Linked DNA regions of Homo sapiens. The protein of the gene in region 2 interacts with the protein of the main gene of each other region in a pairwise test. Each region holds a gene or a part of one and is shown on either strand. Other genes may lie near its edges.

Region 1 (2,906 bases), on a different chromosome or scaffold from region 2:
ATTCAGCTAAGAGAGTAAGGTTTAGTAAGGCCAATTTAAAAATCAGTATGAACTTGGCGGGCGTGGTGGCTCACGCCTGTAATCCCAGCACTTTGGGAGGAGGAGGCAGGCGGATGGTGAGGTCAGGAGTTTGAGACCAGCCTGGCCAATATAGTGAAACCCCGTCTCTACTAAAAATACAAAAATTAGCCGGGCATGGTGGCGTGTACCTGTATTCCCAGCTACTCAGGAGGCTGAGGCAGGAGAATCACTTGAACTTGGGAGGTGGAGGTTGCAGTGAGCCAAGATAGCATCACTGCACTCCAGCCCGCGCAACAGAGCGAGACTCCGTGTGAAAAAAAAAAAAAAATCAGTATGAACAGTCATATATAAAAATATATAAATTATATGATGATTTATGTAAGTGTTTCCTCAGATTGTGGCAGTGTTTTCACAGGTATATATGTATATCACAGGTATATATGTGAAAACCTTCAAAACGTTCACTTTAAATGGATGCATTTTGCATATAAATGACATAAAGTTAATATAAGCAAGCATTTTCATTGTCTTTAAATAGATACTCTTACGGTGATTGAAACAGGTTATTTTCTATAACTGGGATTAATTTTATTCTATTATTTCTCTTTTTTCACAGAAAATGTTACTGTAAGCTGGGCGTGGTGGTTCATGCCTGTAATCCCGGCACTTTGGGAGGCTGAGGCAGGCAGATCACTTGAGGTTAGGAGTTCAAGACCAGTCTTGACAACATGGTGAAACCCCGTCTCTACTAAAAACACAAAAATTAGCTGAGTGTAGTGGCGCATGCCTGTAATTCCAGCTACTTGGGAGGCTGAGGCAGGAGAAGTGCTTGAACCCAGAGGGTGGAGGCTGCAGTGAGCTGAGATCATGCCAACTGTACTCCAGCCTGGGTGACAGGGCAGACTTTGTCTCAAAAAAAAAAAAAAAAAGTTACTGTAAAAATCTACCTGATACACTAGATCTCATTCATCCATGTGTTCCACAACACAGTACTTTACTGAGATGTATGAGATCTTAGGTTTACTGAGCACCTGCTATTTAATACACTGGGCACTGTGCGTGGCACTGGTTATTTGCCTAATTTAACACACCTAGTATATTGCAGACCCTAATTTGAAGTCGTATTTGTATGATTTCAAAGTCAATGCTCTTATCAGTACATAAAGTAAGAAAGCTCTTAAAGATTCTTTCCTAGTGTGAAGGCAAAGCTTTCTCACTGTGAAACCTCATTAATTCAAAAAATGTGGTATGTAGTTTAAAAATCTGCAAATTACATAGAGGTTAATTCAAGCAACACTTAAATATTTGTGCAGTATCTAAAATGTACAGTGGAGATAATATAAAGAACAGAAACAGCCAATGTCCGCTGGAGAATATTTCTACAATAGGACTTTTTCTAGTTAAAAAAAAAAAAGTATAAAAAATATTTAGGTTCCAATGTGGGGGCGGGGGCATCAAGAAAAATAGCTAACGCATGCTGGGCTTCATACCTAGGTGATAGGTTGATAGGCGCAGCAAACCACCATGGCACATGTTTACCTATCTAACAAACCTGCACACGTACCCTGGAACTTAAAAGAAAATTTTTTTTAAAGTAAAATTTTAAGTTCCTTTCATGACATTTTTGCAATACCAAAAACGTCTTAAAAGTGAGAAAGAATTTGCAATAAAATTCTTCTAAAGTGAAAAAAAATTACACGGAGCTAAAGTTAAAATTAACCTTGCAGTTTACTCTCTAAAAATCCAATAGTCCTCATTTGATGATGCTGATATTGAAAAATACTTTCTCACATATCAATAGATGATTATATATGCATCACTATATGTCAGAAATATTTTTGCTCTTAGTTGCTTTACTGGTCTCTTCCTTCCTTCAGGATTGATAGGATATGAAATAAAGTTAAAATTATAAAATATAAAAAAAATAGGCTGGGCATGGTGGCTCATGCCTGTAATTCCAGCTGAGGCGGGAGGACCACTTGAGGTCAGGAGTTCAAGACCAGCCTGGGCAACATAGTTGGGACCCTATCCCTACCAAAAAATTTTAAAAATTAGCCAGGCATGGTGGTGCATGCCTGTAGCCCTAGCTACTCAGGAGACAGAGGTGGGCAGAACACTTGAGTCCAGAAGTTCAAGGCTGCAGTGAGCTATGATTACACCACTGCACTCCAGCCTGGGCAACAGAGCAAGAATCTCTTAAAAAATAAAAATAAAAAAACCCCACAAACATTATTAACCATGTTCCCCACAATCTAGGATTATCAACAAAGTTTCAGACAGAACAAAGGTTCAGAATACAACCATAAGATTTATTTTACCTGTTGAAATAGGTGGATGTCCTCTGTCTTTGTAACTGGCTCTGGCGTTTCCTTCAATTTCAGTTGTGGTTGCTTTTGCCAGTAATCTTTTGCATGCTGAATAAGATTGTGTTTTTCAGTAGCTGGAGGTATAACAATCCCCTGTGTTGCCAAGTACTTAAATATAACTTCTCGGTGGACTTTTCTACGCCTCAGAAGTTCTTCTGCACTTTGACTGTATGCTAATATTGCATGAACAGCATCTAGAAAGAAATTGCAAAGATTAATAAAAAATCATGAGGCACTTACAAATTTGTGCCAGGTGGGCAGAAACTCTATCAAATATGTTTATAAACTCTCGTCACAGCATTATTGCTGTTACATGATAGTCATCATTTTTAAAAAATAGGAAGTCCGTTGTCAGTTTTCTTTTAACATCTTTATGCCTTAAACTTCCCTTACCTAAAATCTCTTCTGTTCACTTCCCATAAGTGATAGTGAAAGTTTAGCATTTCCTCTTAAAGAATTACATTTTAAGAAAACATTTAAGTGAGAAAAAATATTTTTTCTAATAAGGCCAACAGTCCT
Region 2 (3,653 bases):
ATCCTGGCTAACACGATGAAACCCCGTCTCTACTAAAAATACAAAAAATTAGCTGGGCATGATGGCAGGCGCCTGTAGTCCCAGCTACTCGGGAGGCTGAGGCAGGAGAATGGTGTGAACCCGGGAGGTGGAGCTTGCAGTGAGCTGAGATCGTGCCACTGCACTCCAGCCTGGGTGACAGACCGAGACTCCATCTCAAAAAAAAAAAAAAAAAAAAAAAAAAATTGTAAATTTTTTTTAACGTATGGAGCACCCATATATAAAGCAAGTATTAGAGCTAGAAGGAGATAAGAGAATCCAATACAGTAATAGTTGGAGACTTTAAAACCCCACTTTCAGCACTGGACAGATCTTCCAGAGAGAAAATCAATAAAGAAACATCAGACTTAATCTGCACTATAGAAAAAATGGACCTAATAGATATTTACAGAACTTTTCATCCAATGGCCACAGAATACACATTGTTCTCAGCATATGGATCATTGTCAAGGATAAACCATGTTAGGTTACAAAACAACTCTTAAAACATATTCAAAAATTTGAAATAATTAATATCAAACATCGTCTCTGACCACAATAGAATAAAACTAGAAATCAACAACAAGAGGAATTTTGGAAACCATAGAAACACATGGAAATTAAACAATATGCCCCTGAATGACCAGTGGGTCAATGAAGAAATTGAGAGAAACTGAAAAATTTCTTGAAATAAATGATAATGGAAACACAACATGCCAAAACCTATAGGACACAGTGAAAGCAGTATTAAGAGGGAAGTTTATAGTTACAAGTGCCTACATAAAAAAAAGAAGAGAGGCCGGGTGTGGTGGCCCATGTGTATAATTCCAGCACTCTGCGAGGCTGAGGCAGATGAATCACTTGAGCTCCAGAGTTCTAGACCAGCCTGGGCAGTATGGTGAAACCCTGTCTCTACCAAAAATACACAAAAATTAGCCAGGTGTGGTGGTGCATGTTTGTGATCCCAGCTTCTCAGGAGTCTGAGGCAGGAGGATCACTTGAGCCCAGGAGGCAGAAGTTGCAGTGAGTAGAGATTATCACGCCAGTGCAGTTCAGCCTGGAGAACATAGTAAGACCCTGTCTCTTAAAGAAAAGAAGAAAAAAAAAGTCATCTGAAATAAATAACTTAATGATGCGTCATAAAGAACTAGAAAAGTAAGAGTAAACTTAACCCAAAATTAGTAGAAGAAAGGAAATAATAAATATCAGATCAGAAAGAAATGAAATTGAAATGAAGAAAACAATACAAAATGTCAATGAACAAAAAGTTGGGTTTTAGAAAAGATAAAACTGACAAACCTTTAGCCAGACTAAGAAAAAGAGAGAAGTCCCAAGTAAATAAAACTAGAGATGTAAAAGGAAACATTACAACCAATACTGCAGAAATTTAAAGGATCATCAGTGGCTACTATGAGCAAGTATATGCCAATAAATTGGAAAATCTAGAAGAAATGGATAAATTCCTATATACAAACAACCTATCCGATTGAACCATGAAGAAATCCAAAACCTGAGAAGACCAATAATAAGTAATAAGATTGAAGTCATAATAAAAAGCCTCCCACTAAAGAAAAGCCCAGGACCCAATGGCTTCACTGCTGAATTCTATCAAAGAACTAATTCCAATCCTAACCAAACTATTCTAAAAAACAGAGGAGGGAATACTTCCAAACTCATTCTACAAGGCCAGTGTTACCCTAACACCAAACCAGACACATTAAAAACAAAAAACAACTACAGGCCAATCTCTGATGAATATTGATGCAAAAATTCTCAACAAAATACTAGCAAACTGAATTCAATAATACATTAGAAAGATAATCTATCATGACTAAGTGGGATTTATCCCAGGGATGCAAGGATCATTTAACATATGTAAATCAATCAGTGTGATAAATCACATCGACAGAATGAAGGACAAAAACTATGATCATTCAATTGATGCTAAACAAAGTATGTGATACAATTCAACATTCCTTCTGGCTAAATACCCTCAAAAAACTGGGTATAGAAGGAACATAGTCAACATAATAAAAGCCATATATGACAGACCTACAGCTAGTACCAGATTGAATGGGAAAAAGCTGAAATGCTTTACTCTCTAAGATTTGGAACACGACAAGGATGCCTACTTTTACCACTGCTATTCAACATAGCACTGGAAGTCTTCTCTAGAGCAATCAGACAAGAGAAAGAAATAAAGGGCATCCACATTGGAAAGGATCAAGTCAAATTATCCTTGCTTGCAGACGATATGATCTTACATTTAGGAAAACTTAAAGACTCTTACCAATAAACTATTAGAACTGATAAATAAGTTCAGTATATTTGCAGGACATAAAATCAACATACAAAACTCCATAACATTTCTATATGCAAACAGAACAATCTGGAAAAGAAATCAAGAAAGTAATCCTATTTACAATAGCTACAGATAAAATACCTAAGAATTAACTAAAGAAGTGAAAGATCTTTGCAATGAAAACTATAAAACACTGATACAAGAAATTGAAGAGGACACACACACACAAAATGGAATGATATTCCATATTCATGGACTGGAGGAATCAATATTGTTAAAATGCCCATACTATCCAAAGCAATTTACAGATTCAATGCAATCCCTATTAAAATGCCAAGGATATTCTTCACAGAAATAGAAAAAGCAATTCTAAAATTTATATGAAACCACAGAAGACCCAGAATAGTCAAAGCTATCCTAAGCAAAACAAAACAAAATGAAACAACAACAACAACAACAACAAAAAACTGGAGGAATCACATTGCCTGACTTTGAATTACACTATAGAGCTATAGTAACCAAAACAGCATAGTTCTGGCATAAAAGCAGACATGTAGACCAATGGAACAGAAGAGTGAACCCAGAAACCCAATAGTGAACCCACACACCTACAGTAAACTCATTTTCACCAAAGATGCCAGGAACATACATTGGGGAAAAGACAGTCTCTTCAACAAATGGTGCTGGGAAAACTGAATATCCGTATGCAGAAGAATGAATGAAAGTAGACCCCTATCTCTCACTATATACAAAATCAAGTCAAAATGGATTAATGACTTAAATCTAAGACCTCAAATTATGAAACAACTACAAGAAAACATTGGGGAAACTCTCTGGGACGTTGGAGTGGGCAAAGATTTCTTGAGTACCCCACAAACACAGGCAACCAAAGCAAAAATGGACAAACGGGATCACATCAAGTTAAAAAGCTCCTGCACAGCCAAGGAAAGAGGCCACCCACAGAATGGAAAAACAAATTTGCAAACTACCCATGTGACAAGGGATTAAAAACCAGAATATATAAGGAGTTCAAACAACTCTACAGGGAAAAAAAGTCTAATAATCAGATTAAAAATGGGCAAAAATCTGAACAGATGTTTCTTTAAAGGCATGCGAATGGCAAACAGGTATATGAAAAGGTGCTCAACATCATTGATAAGAGAATTATAAATCAAAACTACAATGAGATATTATCTCACTTCAATTTGAATGGCTTTTATCCAAAAAACAAGCAATAAATGCTGATGAGAATGTGCAACCTCTGCCTCCCAGGTTCAAGGGATTCTCCTGCCTCAGCCTCCCCAGTAGCAGGGATTACAGGTTCTCACCACCA
Region 3 (4,410 bases), on a different chromosome or scaffold from region 2:
AAAAAAAAAAAAAAAAGATTCTAAGATGCTTAGCTTGGCTTCTGGTCCCAGCTTCAACTGCAGATTTGAAGAGAGGCTAGGACCTGGTCCCTGCCTTTTGGGTACAAGGAGTAATTTTCAGAGGAAAGGGAGGAACAGTGATCTGAGCATAGTCCCCTCTTTACCCAGCCTTGGACGCTGCCCAGACGGCCTTGAGAAGGCATCTAATGTGATACCTCTGCTACACTGTAGCACTAGCCAGTGGGTGCCTCCTGGGCAACTGTTCCAGTGGAAACATTGCTGCTATTGCTTTTCTTTCTTCCTGTACCTATAACCAGTTGGGATTCCCAGGTGGCCTGTCCCATTTCTGTGTCCTGACCCAAGGCTGAGATAATGGCTCTGGCTAAGAATACAATGCATGCAAAGTCTGGGCTTTCTCCTGAGCCCTGTCCCCAGATTCCCTCACCCCACCTTAACTGAGTTTTTGCTACCTTACCCCCAAGGGTTCTTTCTCCCTTGTCCTTCCCTGCTTTTAAAATTGTTCATGTTGGGCCAGGCGTGGTGGCTCACACCTGTAATCCCAGCACTTTGGGAGGCAGAGGCAGGCGGATCACAAGGTCAGGAGTTCAAGACCAGCCTGGCCAATATGGTGGAAACCCGTCTCTACTAAAAATACAAAAATTAGCCAGGCATGGTGGCAGGCACCTGTAGTCCCAGCTACTTGGGAGGCTGAGGCAGGAGAATCGCTTGAACCCGGGAGGCAGAGGTTGCAGTGAGCTGAGATGGTGCCACCACACTCCAGCCTGGGTGACAGAGTGAGACTCCGTCTCAAAAAAAAAAAAAAAAAAAATTGTTCATGTTAGTCGGGCACAGTGGCTCATGCCTGTAATCCCACCACCCTGGGAGGCTGAGGTAGGCAGATCACTTGAACTCAGGAGATTAAGACCAGCCTGAGCCTGGGCAACATGGCAAAACCCCAAAACCCCATCTCTACAAAAATTAGCCAGACGTGGTGGCACACACCTGTAGTCCCAGCTACTCAGGAGGCTGAGGCAGGAGGATTGCTTGAGCCCAAGATGTTGAGGATGCAGTGAGCCGTGATTGCACCACTGCACTCCAGCCTGGATGACAGAGTAAGACCCTGGCTCAAAAAATAAAAAATAGTTCAACTGTTCATGTCTCCTTGGTCTTCAGGCCCAATGCCACAAAAACCGGGGCAAAGGCAGTTCATCATCAGTTTCCATTCCCTCATCCCTTTGCTCTGTCTGTGTGATTATATATGTATCAAGGAGTAGTGGTTCTGGCTGACACCAAGACTCACCAGGGTTGTACAGGGCACTGGGGCTACGGTGCCTGCTCTGGGCAGGATGTGGGCATGAGCATCAAAGGGCAGCTCACTGACCATGCAGGAATCAGGCACCATAAATGCTGGGCTCCACTGATCTGGAGTAGAAAACAGGTAGCTGGGAGAAAGGAGACTTAGGAACACCCTGACAGCCGCAGGGCCTGGGTAGTGGCACAGGTTGGGTAAACCCCCTTAACCCCATGGTTAGGGCCAGTCCCGAAGGGCCATTTCCCCCTTCCCACAAAGAACACTGACCTAGCTGGATGGAGATAAGGCCTACATTTGGCCCAGTTTCCCCCTGCATCCTCTCCAGGGCCCCTGCCTCATAGACAACCTCATAGAGCATAGGAGAACTGGTTGCCCTGGGGGCAGGGGGACTGTCTGGATGGCAGGGGTCCTCAGAGATGCCACTGTCACTGCCAGGAGATGCTTCTGAGCAGTACACCTCATTGGGATCAATGAAAAGCTTCAAGAAATCTTCAGGCTCACTCTCTTGAAGGCCCTACAGTAGGAAAAGGTTATATATATGTGCAGGGAAGAATTTTGGAAGTCCTCCCTGACTTATGCTTCATTTTCAGTCCTTTCACTTCTTGGGCATGGAGACAGTTATTATACAACTTACGTCTATTTTGGGGGTGGTCTGTTTTCAGACCTGTCTCCAAGTGGGAGCTGAAGCCTCTTATCACAGAGTTGTGTCTCAACCCCACCCCCACTCCCACTCGTCACACTCACACAGCCACGGTCCCCACCGGACTTCCAGCCTTGCAGTCCCTGTTCCTGTAGCCTAGTTACCGGAACCTCTGGAGGGGGGCAGTGGAGTCCCAGCTCCAGGACGGATCCTGTCGAGAAGATATCCTCTGGGGGCTCCAGCCACGCGTCCAGCAGGTCAGGGATTCCGAGATCCATGCTTCTGCAGGAAGGCGTGTGGGACGGAGGGTTGCAGAAACGGAATGATGGCTGCTTACTACCCCCTACAGTTTCTGGGCTCCTCTGCTCCCTTTTCCATTATCCCCGCCCCCCCACTCCTTCCTCACTAGCAAGCCCCCTCACCTGTCCCCTCGATATTTCACCTTCAGCCCTATCCCTCAGGTTTAGACAAAGAGGCCCCCCCCAAGCATTACCTGTTCTGAAGAGCCCAGCCCTGTCAAGCCAGCATAGCCCGTTGACCTCCCCAAACACTACACCTTTTCTTTCTTCCAGGATCTCGTATCCTGGACCTGCCAGCCAAACCCCGCCCCCAGCCTTACACTACAAAAGTGGATGCCACCTTGCCAGGAGCCACGGTAGGGCCGCTGTATCTGGGAGTAGGGGACTAAGAGTCTGAGGGTCCACAAACGGAATTTAAGAAGTAGGTAGCCGCGCCCTTTCTGCTGCAGTTTTCTCTTAGCTATAGTAAATCTTCCTGAGGGTTTGGTGTCTCCTAGCTGAAGAACAGAAAAGGCTGTGACTGGAGCACAGGACTCCTGAATGCCTGTTCTGTAGCCCTCGCTTTTGCAAGAGGGAGATCATGGCAGGGTTGTAAACAAAGGCGGAAAGAGTCAAGAGACCTGCGAATTTACTAGGGCATCCCCTCGCCCACCGCGTGGCGCTCTTCCCAAAGCTGAGTCCTGATTGGAAGCTGAAGACTTAGGTTTCGGAGGGGCAGGACATCGAGCCAATGGCACACTACCCTCTCAAGGCCGCCTCTTCCGTAACTGGTCGGAGACAGTTTGGCTGTTCAGGAGAGTCAGGCCAATGGGGCCGCAGTTCTTTCTTTTTTTTTTCTTTATTCTTATTTTTGGAGACAGGGTCTCGCTCTGTTGCCCAGGCTGGAGTGCGGTGGTGCGATCACGGTTCCATGCAGCCCCCGACCTCCCGGGCTCAGGTGATTCTCCCGCCTCAGCACCGCGAGCAGCTAGGACCACAGGCGCGAGCCACTGCGTCCGGCCGGCGGGACTTATTTGTCAGGCGGGGATTGGGTTCCGCCAGCCTAAAGGGAGGGGTAAGCGCCAGAATATGAATCGCCGGGAAGCTGGGAGAAAGCTCCGGGAAACCCTGAGCAGCCAGGTTTGTCTTCGCGCGCCACGTGACTCGGAAGCTCCGGTTTCACCCAGGCGGGGAGTCAACAGCCCGCTGACCCCAGTGGAGCGGTGATCCTCGCTCGGCAGGCGGCAGGAGCGCGATGGCGGGTTTCCCCGTCCGCAAGCCGAGCAGTGTGGCGTTAATGGAGAACAGCAGCTGTGCGCACACGCTCGCTGCACGCTGCTCATTCACGGAGGGACACGGGGCAGGAAAACTGCAACAAGTTAAAAAGCCTTTTGCGTTTGTTGTCTTATTGTTTGCATACAGTTACCGGGAACATTATGTCCCACACTTGTATAATTTACAAAACGTTTTCATAAAAATTGTTCTCTTCCTTAATCCATAACAGTTCTGAGGCACACACGGCGGGTAATATTTTGCAAATTTTACCTATGAGGAGGCAGATCCATGACTAGAAAGTAGTAATACCAAAACTCAGGGTTGATTGATTATTTTTATTTTTTTGCCTTGGTCTAATGTCTGATGGTCCAGGAATTCACTTCAAGTAAAACAATGGAGGTAAACTGATACAGGTATGGTTTTCAGTAGTATTTCAGAAAAGGGTAGCTGGGTGAGTAAAACAGTAGTTTGGAGTGTGAATCCCAGAACTCAAACTGCTACTAATTATCCTTATGAAGATTTGAACGGGCTAAGGGTAAAAACGGGAACAGGGTCTAGTCAGGCATTTCCATGTTACTCATATAATTCTTACAGCAGATGGAGCTGACAAGTTTGTTTGTTTGTTTTTCTTTTGCTCTGTGGCCCAGGCTGGAGTGCAGAGGCTCGATCTCGGCTCACTGCAAGCTCCGCCTCCCGGGTTCACGCCATTCTCCTGCCTCAGCCTCCCTAGTAGCTGGGACTACAGGCGCCCAGCTAATTTTTTTGTATTTTTAGTAGAGACAGGGTTTCACCGTGTTAGCCAGGGTGGTCTCGATCTGACCTCGTGATCCGTCCACCTCGGCCTCCCAATGTGCTGGGATTACAGGCGTGAGCCACCACGCCCGTCCGAGCTGACAAGTTTAAGT

Evidence for each region.
Region 1: the proteins of SLC19A3 (region 2) and C3orf38 interact in a two-hybrid assay, tested with the Homo sapiens proteins (one large-scale study listed by BioGRID and IntAct).
Region 3: the proteins of SLC19A3 (region 2) and CREB3L4 interact in a two-hybrid assay, tested with the Homo sapiens proteins (one large-scale study listed by BioGRID and IntAct).

The regions. Positions count from the first base shown.
Region 1 is NC_000003.12:88,152,905-88,155,810, reverse strand, and holds part of C3orf38 (uncharacterized protein C3orf38), read right to left. Parts: intron 2,582-2,906; coding exon 2,340-2,581; intron 1-2,339.
Region 2 is NC_000002.12:227,690,510-227,694,162, forward strand, and holds part of SLC19A3 (thiamine transporter 2), read right to left. Parts: intron 1-3,653. UniProt on the Homo sapiens protein: Mediates high affinity thiamine uptake, probably via a proton anti-port mechanism. Has no folate transport activity. Mediates H(+)-dependent pyridoxine transport.
Region 3 is NC_000001.11:153,966,346-153,970,755, reverse strand, and holds the start of CREB3L4 (cyclic AMP-responsive element-binding protein 3-like protein 4), read right to left. Parts: upstream 2,855-4,410; 5' UTR 2,592-2,854; exon of another isoform or gene 2,572-2,591; intron 2,507-2,571; exon of another isoform or gene 2,375-2,506; intron 2,235-2,374; 5' UTR 2,231-2,234; coding exon 2,057-2,230; intron 1,827-2,056; coding exon 1,580-1,826; intron 1,423-1,579; coding exon 1,301-1,422; intron 1-1,300. UniProt on the Homo sapiens protein: Transcriptional activator that may play a role in the unfolded protein response. Binds to the UPR element (UPRE) but not to CRE element.